2 linked regions of the Homo sapiens genome follow. The protein of the gene in region 2 interacts with the protein of the main gene of each other region in a biochemical or structural test. Each region holds a gene or a part of one and is shown on either strand. Other genes may lie near its edges. The genes, in order: ITGA3 and CD151.

Region 1 (3,500 bases), on a different chromosome or scaffold from region 2:
ACAACATAGGGGGCTAGCCCCAACCCAGGGCCCAGTCTCCTAGTCTGTGGAAATGAGGGGTAAGGAGCAGGCAGAGGACCAAAGTGCTCTGGGCTTCTTGGCAAGATGCATGAGGGGTTCCTTGGAGGGACAGGGACTGTTCTCTGGGAGGTGGTTACTGACACCCTCTCTGCTCCAGCACCTGCACTGACATTCCCTCCTGGGAATCCAGGCATTCTGGTCTGGCCTGACCCTGTGGGCCTATGGGGATACTGCCGGTCCTTCTCTCTCTTTCACTTTTGCTTGGAAATGAGGGTATCTGGGAAGCCCAGGGCAGGGTGGCTCCTAGAAATGAGGTCATGCCTGAGGTACGCAGGAGCCAGGCTCACCTGCCATGCTCTCCTAACATCATGTTTCCCTGGGCAAAGCAGGTGCCTGGCAGCCTTCAAGGTTCGTGCCAGCAGAAATGGGCACAGCAGCTGTGGCTGGAGGCAGAAGGCCTGCTCGTGTAGTATCTTTTTCCTCTGGCTCTACCCAGTGACCAGTCTAGGCCAAGAGGCTTTCAACTGGGCAGGAGTAGGGGAAGCCTGATCTTGTAGAAAAAGCAGCAGCGAAGGGGGCTTGGTCAGAAGTAAACAAAGAAGGAAGAAGATCCCCTTTGCAGTAAGAGGAATTGAGGTTAGATGACACTTAGAATGCCCTCGGGGGTCAAATACAGGAAAAATACTGAAGAGCCAAGGAAAGGGAGCAGAACTGAGAAAAATGGCCTTGTTCTTTTTTTATCTGAGGCTTAGCCAGGGCTCTTTTTCCTGTCCTTTCTCATTCTCTCTCTCCCTCCAGCTTGTTGCTCTGGTTCTAGGGCTGAGTCACCAGTGGGGAGAGGGGGCTGGGTGGGCAGCAAGGGAAGGGTCAGGAAGGATGGGGAGGGCTGCAGTTTCAGCTGCCACAGGGCCGGCCTCTGGGGAGATGGCTAATTCGGGCAGCAAGGCTGGCATAGAGCTGGGATCCAGGCATCCCAGAGCTGCCCCCACCCCTTCTCTGGGGCTCAGAGGTGGAGCAGGCACCCTCCCCACCTGCCTCCCGGCCGGGGATAGGAGGGGAACACAGGAGGCTAGGTACCCAAGGAGTGAGGCCCTGCCATGTTGGCCTGAGTGCTAGATCCTTTGGCCCCCTCTGGAATCCTCCCATGGAGCCACCAAGTGCCTCCCTGAGGTGACAGAATCTGGGAAGGTGAATCTTACAGGCTGCTTCTCTGAGCATTACCCCACCCCAGTGCCCCCAGGGGCCTTCTCCTCTTTGAGGTGAGCCAACCTGGTACCCTGAATTCTCCTGGGTACTGTGCCGCGCCCTTCTTTGATTCTTCTGCTTTCTCCTTGGCTGTTCCATTAGCTCTGAACTGCCCCAAGGGGAGTGATAGGGCAGGGGTAAGGAAGGGCTTTTTCGGAACTTGGAGCTCAAGGGGCTCCGCAGAGGCCAAGAGGGGCTGTTTGGCTGGAGCCAATGGGAGGGTGAGGAGGCAGCTGTTGGAAAGCCCTTGAGTAGTCACTTCACCCATCCCACTCCATCTGGGGGGCTGGGGGTCTCTGCTCCCCCCAGTCCAGCCTGACTCCAGGAGAGGGGCAGTCCCATCTCCTATCTTCCTTGCTCTAAGAGCTCCATCTAGGCATCCCTCCACCTACTCTCCCTCCTTCTGGCTGCAGCTGAGGGGATGGGTTCAGTACTGCTCTGGAAGGGGTCAGCTTTTGGATTTTGTGATCTGGACCAGACCTAAAAGCAGGTGGCTGGCAGAATTGCTCATTTGTGTACTAATTTGCATTTCATTTGCATACAGTAAGGTCCCTCTCACCTTCAGGATTCTCCAACCCCCTCCGCACACACCTGGGTGTGTGTGGCTGGAGGAAGCTGGAACCACCCTCTGCACACCCGCCTTCCCCCATCCATGTGCAGGCCTCTGGCTGTAGACCCATTGGATCCTGGGCTGGGAGCCAGAGGGCCTTAAAGGGCCTCTGAGTGGGCCAAGTGGAAGCTAAAAATACTCTGGGGGGGTGAAGCGGGGGCTCACTCTGGAATCTCTGAGGAGGGAGGGGCCTGGGATGTAGGGCTGGGATTAGGGCACTGGCCCTGCCCTGCCCTCTATCAGTAGGCATAAGGCTGGTTCCAGGCAACAGGCAGGAGGGTATTGGTGGTAAGGGGAAGTATTTCAATCTGATTGACATGCGTGCCCAGCTCTGCCTGCTCAGTACCTTGGGAAGTTCAGAGGAGGGAGTCCCTTAGCCCCTTCCTGGCTGAGTTGAGGGGGCTGGGAGGGCATGGAGACCCTTTTGCTCAGCTGCCTCCTGTATGACAACATGGGCAGGGCAGCAGCAGCAACAAGGGGGCAACACTTCCATTACAGGCGTGCCCAAGGCCCGGCCTCCCACTGAGGCCCGGACCCCTTAGTGTCACTGTAGAAAATTCCCAACCTCCACCTCCAGCCAGATCTGAGCCCCCGCTGTAGAGTGACTCTAGCTGCCAGCGCTCCCACCCTGACCCCAGTGATCACCTGGTATCCTCAAGCCATGGAAGTCTTCCTATGTCTCCCTGCTGATCTCTCTAAACCACCAAAGGAGTCTCTTCTTTTCCCTCTGCTCCAGGTTCCCTAACATGCCAGGGCAGAAATTCCTGGGTCCAGCCAGGCACGGTGGCTCACGCTTGTAATCCCAGTAACTTGGGAGGCCGAGGCGGGTGGATCACCTGAGGTCAGGAGTTCGACATCAGCCTGGCCAATATGGCGAAACCCCATCTCTAGTACAAATACAAAAATTAGCTGGGCGTGGTGGTGCATGCCTGTAATCCCAGCTACTTGGGAGGCTGAGTCAGGAGAATCACTTGCACCCGGGAGGCGGAGGTGGCAGTGAGCCGAGGTTGTGCCACTGCACTCCAGCCTGGGTGACAGAGCAAGACCCTGTCTCAAAAAAAAAAAAAAAAAGAAAGAAAAAAAGAAATTCCTGGGTCCCTGGAGGGAGGGCTGGAGGCATGCTAGACCAGTCCTGATGCCACAACAAATCGGAACAACAATGCTCACATTAGCTATGGCTTCATATCAGAACACCTTTTTGTAGAATAGACCTATTTGTTCCTCTAGCAACCCTGGAGGTCAGCAGGAGAGGGGCTGCCCCCATTTTACAGATGGGGCACTCAGGGCTCAGAGAAGGAAAGGAAATTGCCCCTTCAGGCAGAACAAACCCTAGACCCAGGTCCGTGGGTTCTCAGGCTGAGATGCTCCTTTCCCGCAGGCTGTGGGTCCCTTCTCTCATCTGTCAGGCACGCCAGAGAGCGGATGTCCATGGGTGGTCAGGCAGTGGACTCATCGAGGCCTTCCCAGCCCAGAGAGAAGTGACTCTCCAGGCCTGGCTGCCACCCTGGCCCCCTGCCAGCCTCCCTGGCCAGGAAGCTTCACCCCTTCTCCCAGGAACACTTCCCCAGGGTGAGGTCTGAGCTGTTGTCTTGAAGTATAGGCAAGGTCCCACCCCCTTCCCAGC
Region 2 (4,521 bases):
CAGTGAGCCGAGATGGTGCCACTGCACTCCAGCCTGGGCGACAGAGTGAGACTCCATCTCAAAATAAATAAATAAATAATAAAAAGAGACTAGCAAATTAACCCAAAGAAAGTAGAGGAAAGGAGTCCAGGTGCGGTGTCTCATGCCTATAATGCCAGCACTTTGGGAGGCCAAGGCAGGTGCAATCACTTGAGGTCGGGAGTTCACAACCAGCCTGGCCATTGTGGTGAAACCCCATCTCCATCAAAAATATACAAAAATTAACTGGGCGTGATGGTGGGCGCCTGTGGTCCCAGCTACTTGGGAGGCTGAGGCAGGAGAATGGCATGAACCCGGGAGGCGGAGCTTGCAGTGAGCCGAGATGGTGCCACTGCACTCCAGGCTGGGCGACAGTGAGACTCCATCTCAATAAAAAAGAAAAAAAAGAGGGGACACAGATACCCAAGCCAGCCCAGAAGTCGGGGCAGAGCCAGCCACTGTCCTGGGAGGCCTGTGAATGAGCCCCTGTGGGAACAGGACGTGTCACTTCCTAGCGACTCAGGAGCCCTGACAGCCAGGACAGACCCCTGGTGCCCACAGACAGGACAGGGGTCATGGAGGACCTCCCGCCATCACTGCTGACTCACCCCTGCTAGCGGCCGGGGGAGGAAGCCCTAGCGGGTACCTCCGGTGAGCTCATGCCAGCCTGCCCGCTCCCCACGGCATTCCCGGGGCCGCACGTCACAGGCTGGCAGGAGCCTATGGGCCTGCAGTAAGGGCGGAGGAGGCCACTCAGACAGCAGAGGGGTAGGGGCTCAGACAGGCCCCAGCTCAGCCCCTTCCTAAGCTCTCCAGGCCTGTTTACGGTCTGTTAAAGGGCAGCCCTTCCTTCATCCTGGCCGGGGTGGGGAGAATGGAGCGTGGAGGCAGGTGGAGCCTGGCAGACTGGGAGGGTTTTTCCTGGACAGGCGACCCACACCAACCTGAGGGGGCAGCACAGACAGGCTATGCCCCTCCCCAGATGCCCCGTGCCCGCCCGACCTGCAGCAGTGGGCAAGCTGTGAGCATGGGGAAGCCAGGGAGGGCGTGGGGTGCAGACAGCAGCTGAGCGCCCTGGGCCACGTTTCCAGACAGCACAGCCAGGTCTGGACTTTCGCCGCCCCGCCTGCTCTGCCCCACCCTGGCCAGCACTCACCAGCCGGGCTGGAAACGACTCCTCTGCAGGACAGGTGGACAGAAGCTCCCCAGGACTCTAGGCTAGAGGGGCAAGGACATGTCAGGTCACAGGTTACAGGTCTGGCCCAAGGGCCAGAGTGGGCCGGGTTCATTCTGGAGGCAGAGAGAGGAGTGGCCAAGCCCGGTATTTTAGTCTGGGCTAGGGTGGGGCAAGGCACAAGACATTTTGTTTTTTTCTTTTTTTCTTTTTTTGAGATGGAGTTTCGCTCTGTCACCCAGGCTGGAGTGCAATGGCACGATCTCAGCTCACTGCAACCTCCGCCTCCTGAGTTCAAGCAATTCTCCTGCCTCAGCCTCCTGAGTCACTGGGATTACAGGCACCCACCACCACGCCCAGCTAATGTTTGTATTTTTAGTACAGACAGAGTTTCACCATGTGGACCAGGCTGGTCTCGAACTCCTGACCTTAGATGTTCCACCCGCCTTGGCCTCCCAAGGCAGACGACATTTCGGGACAGTCTGATCCTGGGAGGGACCTCATACCTTCCCCCAGGTGCCCCACTCTTGGCCTTCGCTCCAGACCCATCACTGGCCCTTCCCCCACAAACAGCGGCAGCTACAGCCTGGGAAAGAGGCATCATGGAATGGAGCTGGAGGGGGACAGACCTTACCACTGAGCTGAGAGGGGATATTCACCCTCCATGAAGGAGCCAGGGCCTAAATACACGCAGGAAGGGTGGCACAGGCAGACCCTGCCACCAGCGGGGGGATGTGTCTGCCACCGGGGGGCGGGGTGTGCGTCTGCCACCGATGGGGGGATGTGTGAGCCCCTCAAGGACCTGCCCCTGGCCTGGCTGTAAGGTCCCAGGCTTTCTGGAGAAGTTGGTTCTGGGCACAGATGCGTCCTCCACCGCGAGGACACAGGCGACCCGCTGAGGAGTGGCCCCTCTTCCCAGGAATGCCTGGTCCCTCTGGACCCCCTGGGAAAGGGCCTTCCAGAAATAGTTGTCTGTTCCTCCCCAAGTCCCCGGGACCTGCACCAGGCCCCTGGGCGGCCCGCGCCCTATCAGGGGGAGCCCCAGTCAGGGGGACCTGGGACTCCGCGCCTGCCAAGCGTCCCCGGGGCACTGCAATGAGGTCACCGCCGCCGCCGACCCCGCCCGGCGCGGCCAATGGCGCGCCCACTTGCACGCGGGCGGGGGCTGCTGCGGGCGGAGGGAAGACTGCCGTGTCCAGGGACAATGAGCAGGGTGTCCAGGCTGCGCGTCCCGGGACCCCTGGGCTGAAGGGGGCCGTCAGGCCGGTCCAAGGGCCCGGGAGGCGCCTCTCCTTCCCGCTGCGCCTCCCCAACCCGCCCGGAGTCCGCCTCCCGCGGAAGGGCAGGCGAGGGAGCTGGGGCAGGCGAGGGAGCTGGGCCAGGCGGTGGGTGCGGCCTCCCGGAACCTCCCGGCGCCTGCGGCTGGGCCTCCGGGGCTGGGGCGCGCAGGGCCTTCGGCCCCCTCGCGCCCCTCGCCCCCCTCGCGCCCCTCGCCCCCCTCGCCCCGCTCGCCCCGCTCGGCCGAGCTGTCGTGGCCGCGCACTCACCTACCACGCGTCCGAGTCCGGGCCCTGGCGGCGGCGGCAGCAGCTGCGGGGGCGGCGGCTCCCAGCGCTGAGAATGCGCGGCCCGGAGCCTACGAGGGGGACGCCCCGCCCCGCCCCGCCCCGGCCCCGCCCCGGCCTCAAGCCCCTCCCGCGGCGGCGGGCGCTCGGCAGGTCTGAACCCGCGTGGGTGTAGGCGCTGGGGGTCGACCTGGCACTGCGGAGGCCGGGCGAGCTGCAGCCCTGGGGGCGCCAATAGCCCAGCAAGGGCCCATCCCGTCCAAGGACGGAGGAGCTGGGCGGGAGGCGGGCCCGGAGGTAAGACGGCGACCAGCCTAGCCAGAGGCCCTGGGCTGTGGCGACCCGGCCCTCCTCCATGCCCAACCCCCATCTCTTTCTCCTCACCCAGGAACCGCCCAGAGGCTGCAGGGGTCGGCAGAACCGATGCCGGCCTGGGGCGTGGGAGGGCCTAGCGCTGTGGGCAAATGCGGGAGAAGGGCTACTGTACGTGCAGTGTGGACAGCCTGGAGACCCGGGCAGGCCTGGGGTCCCAGCGAGACATACCCATGGGGTCCTGGGGGGCCCATGCCCTCCAGACTGGAAGGGACCACTGGGAGCGGTGCGAGGAGGTGAGGGACGAAGGGCAGGGCCGGCCTAGGGCTGCACCAAGACGCCAAGAGTGGGAGTGAGGAAGGAGGGGGCTGCCCACCCACCAAGCTCATTCATCACAGCCACAGGGGAGGACCAGCATGGGAGGGGGTGGCCGACTGAGGCCGGGAACCTGCCCGGCCTCCCTGGCGAGACAGTGGGGAGCCCTGATCCACACACTGGCGAGGGCCCCGAGGGGCTCCAGCCTTGATGGGTAGTGTGAGTTTGGGGCATGACCAGGGACACAAGAGGACACGCAGGACCTCAGCCCCATCGCCACAGGCCCGCGCTCCCTGTATTCACCCACACAGCACGCGTGCACAGGTGCCCACCTCATCCATGTGGCACACACAGGCTGTGGCTCCCAGACACACGGAAGGCCCAGGAGGACGCAGTGCAGTCAGTGGGTTTTATTTGACGAGGGGGTTTTCTGCTGAACTGAGATGGGGTTGATTGAACGGGGACAGAGCGAAGACTGGCAGAGGGCACACACGGGACCCTGGCCACTCCCGGGACCCTGACCACTCCTAGGCTAGGTCCTTCATGTCTTCAGTCAGGCGAGCCTGGGGCCCACTGGGGAGAGCCTGCATCCTGAGTGGGCACCCCCGACCCATGACAAGCCTCCTGCAAGGGCAGCTTCTAGCTCATGGTCCGTGAGTCACTCGGGGCTGGTCACCGGGCACTGGGAAGGTGGCCAGAGCCGCGTCTGGGGGGCCGAGCCCAGCAACAGCAGCAGCAGCAGGTGGGCCCAGGCAGGCGGGCTGTTGTCAGAGCCTTCCTGCAGCTGCTGCCCGCCCGCCTGGCCTCGCAGGCGTCCCTGTCATCCCGCAGCCGTGTATTCAGCTCCCTAGGGAAGGAGGAGTCCGACACTGAGAGGGTCTGAGGGAGCTCAAGGTGGGGGGAGGTGAGCTCCGACTCCCCTCAGAGCGAAGAGAGGTGTCTGGCTGAGGCTGCAGCGTGAGGGGTGAAAGGCAGGCATAAGGAAGGACTTCCAATGGAGTAGAGCGGCAGCCAAGAATGTTGGGGAGCTGGGAGCCCCCAAGCTCCGCTGAGCCCATTCCCTCTCGGGCCTGAGCCTGACCGTACCTGAGCAGCTCCAGTTGCCGTAGCAGGCTGACTTTCTCTTTCTGCATGTTC

The links.
Region 1: the proteins of CD151 (region 2) and ITGA3 form a complex in vitro, tested with the Homo sapiens proteins (one study listed by BioGRID).

What each region holds. Positions count from the first base shown.
Region 1 is NC_000017.11:50,059,110-50,062,609, forward strand, and holds part of ITGA3 (integrin alpha-3 preproprotein), read left to right. Parts: intron 1-3,500.
Region 2 is NC_000011.10:831,245-835,765, reverse strand, and holds the start of CD151 (CD151 antigen), read right to left. Parts: upstream 2,815-4,521; 5' UTR 2,740-2,814; intron 1,774-2,739; exon of another isoform or gene 1,699-1,773; intron 1,237-1,698; 5' UTR 1,175-1,236; intron 1-1,174. Other genes in the region: CRACR2B (EF-hand calcium-binding domain-containing protein 4A), read right to left, coding at 4,057-4,231, 4,471-4,521. UniProt on the Homo sapiens protein: Structural component of specialized membrane microdomains known as tetraspanin-enriched microdomains (TERMs), which act as platforms for receptor clustering and signaling.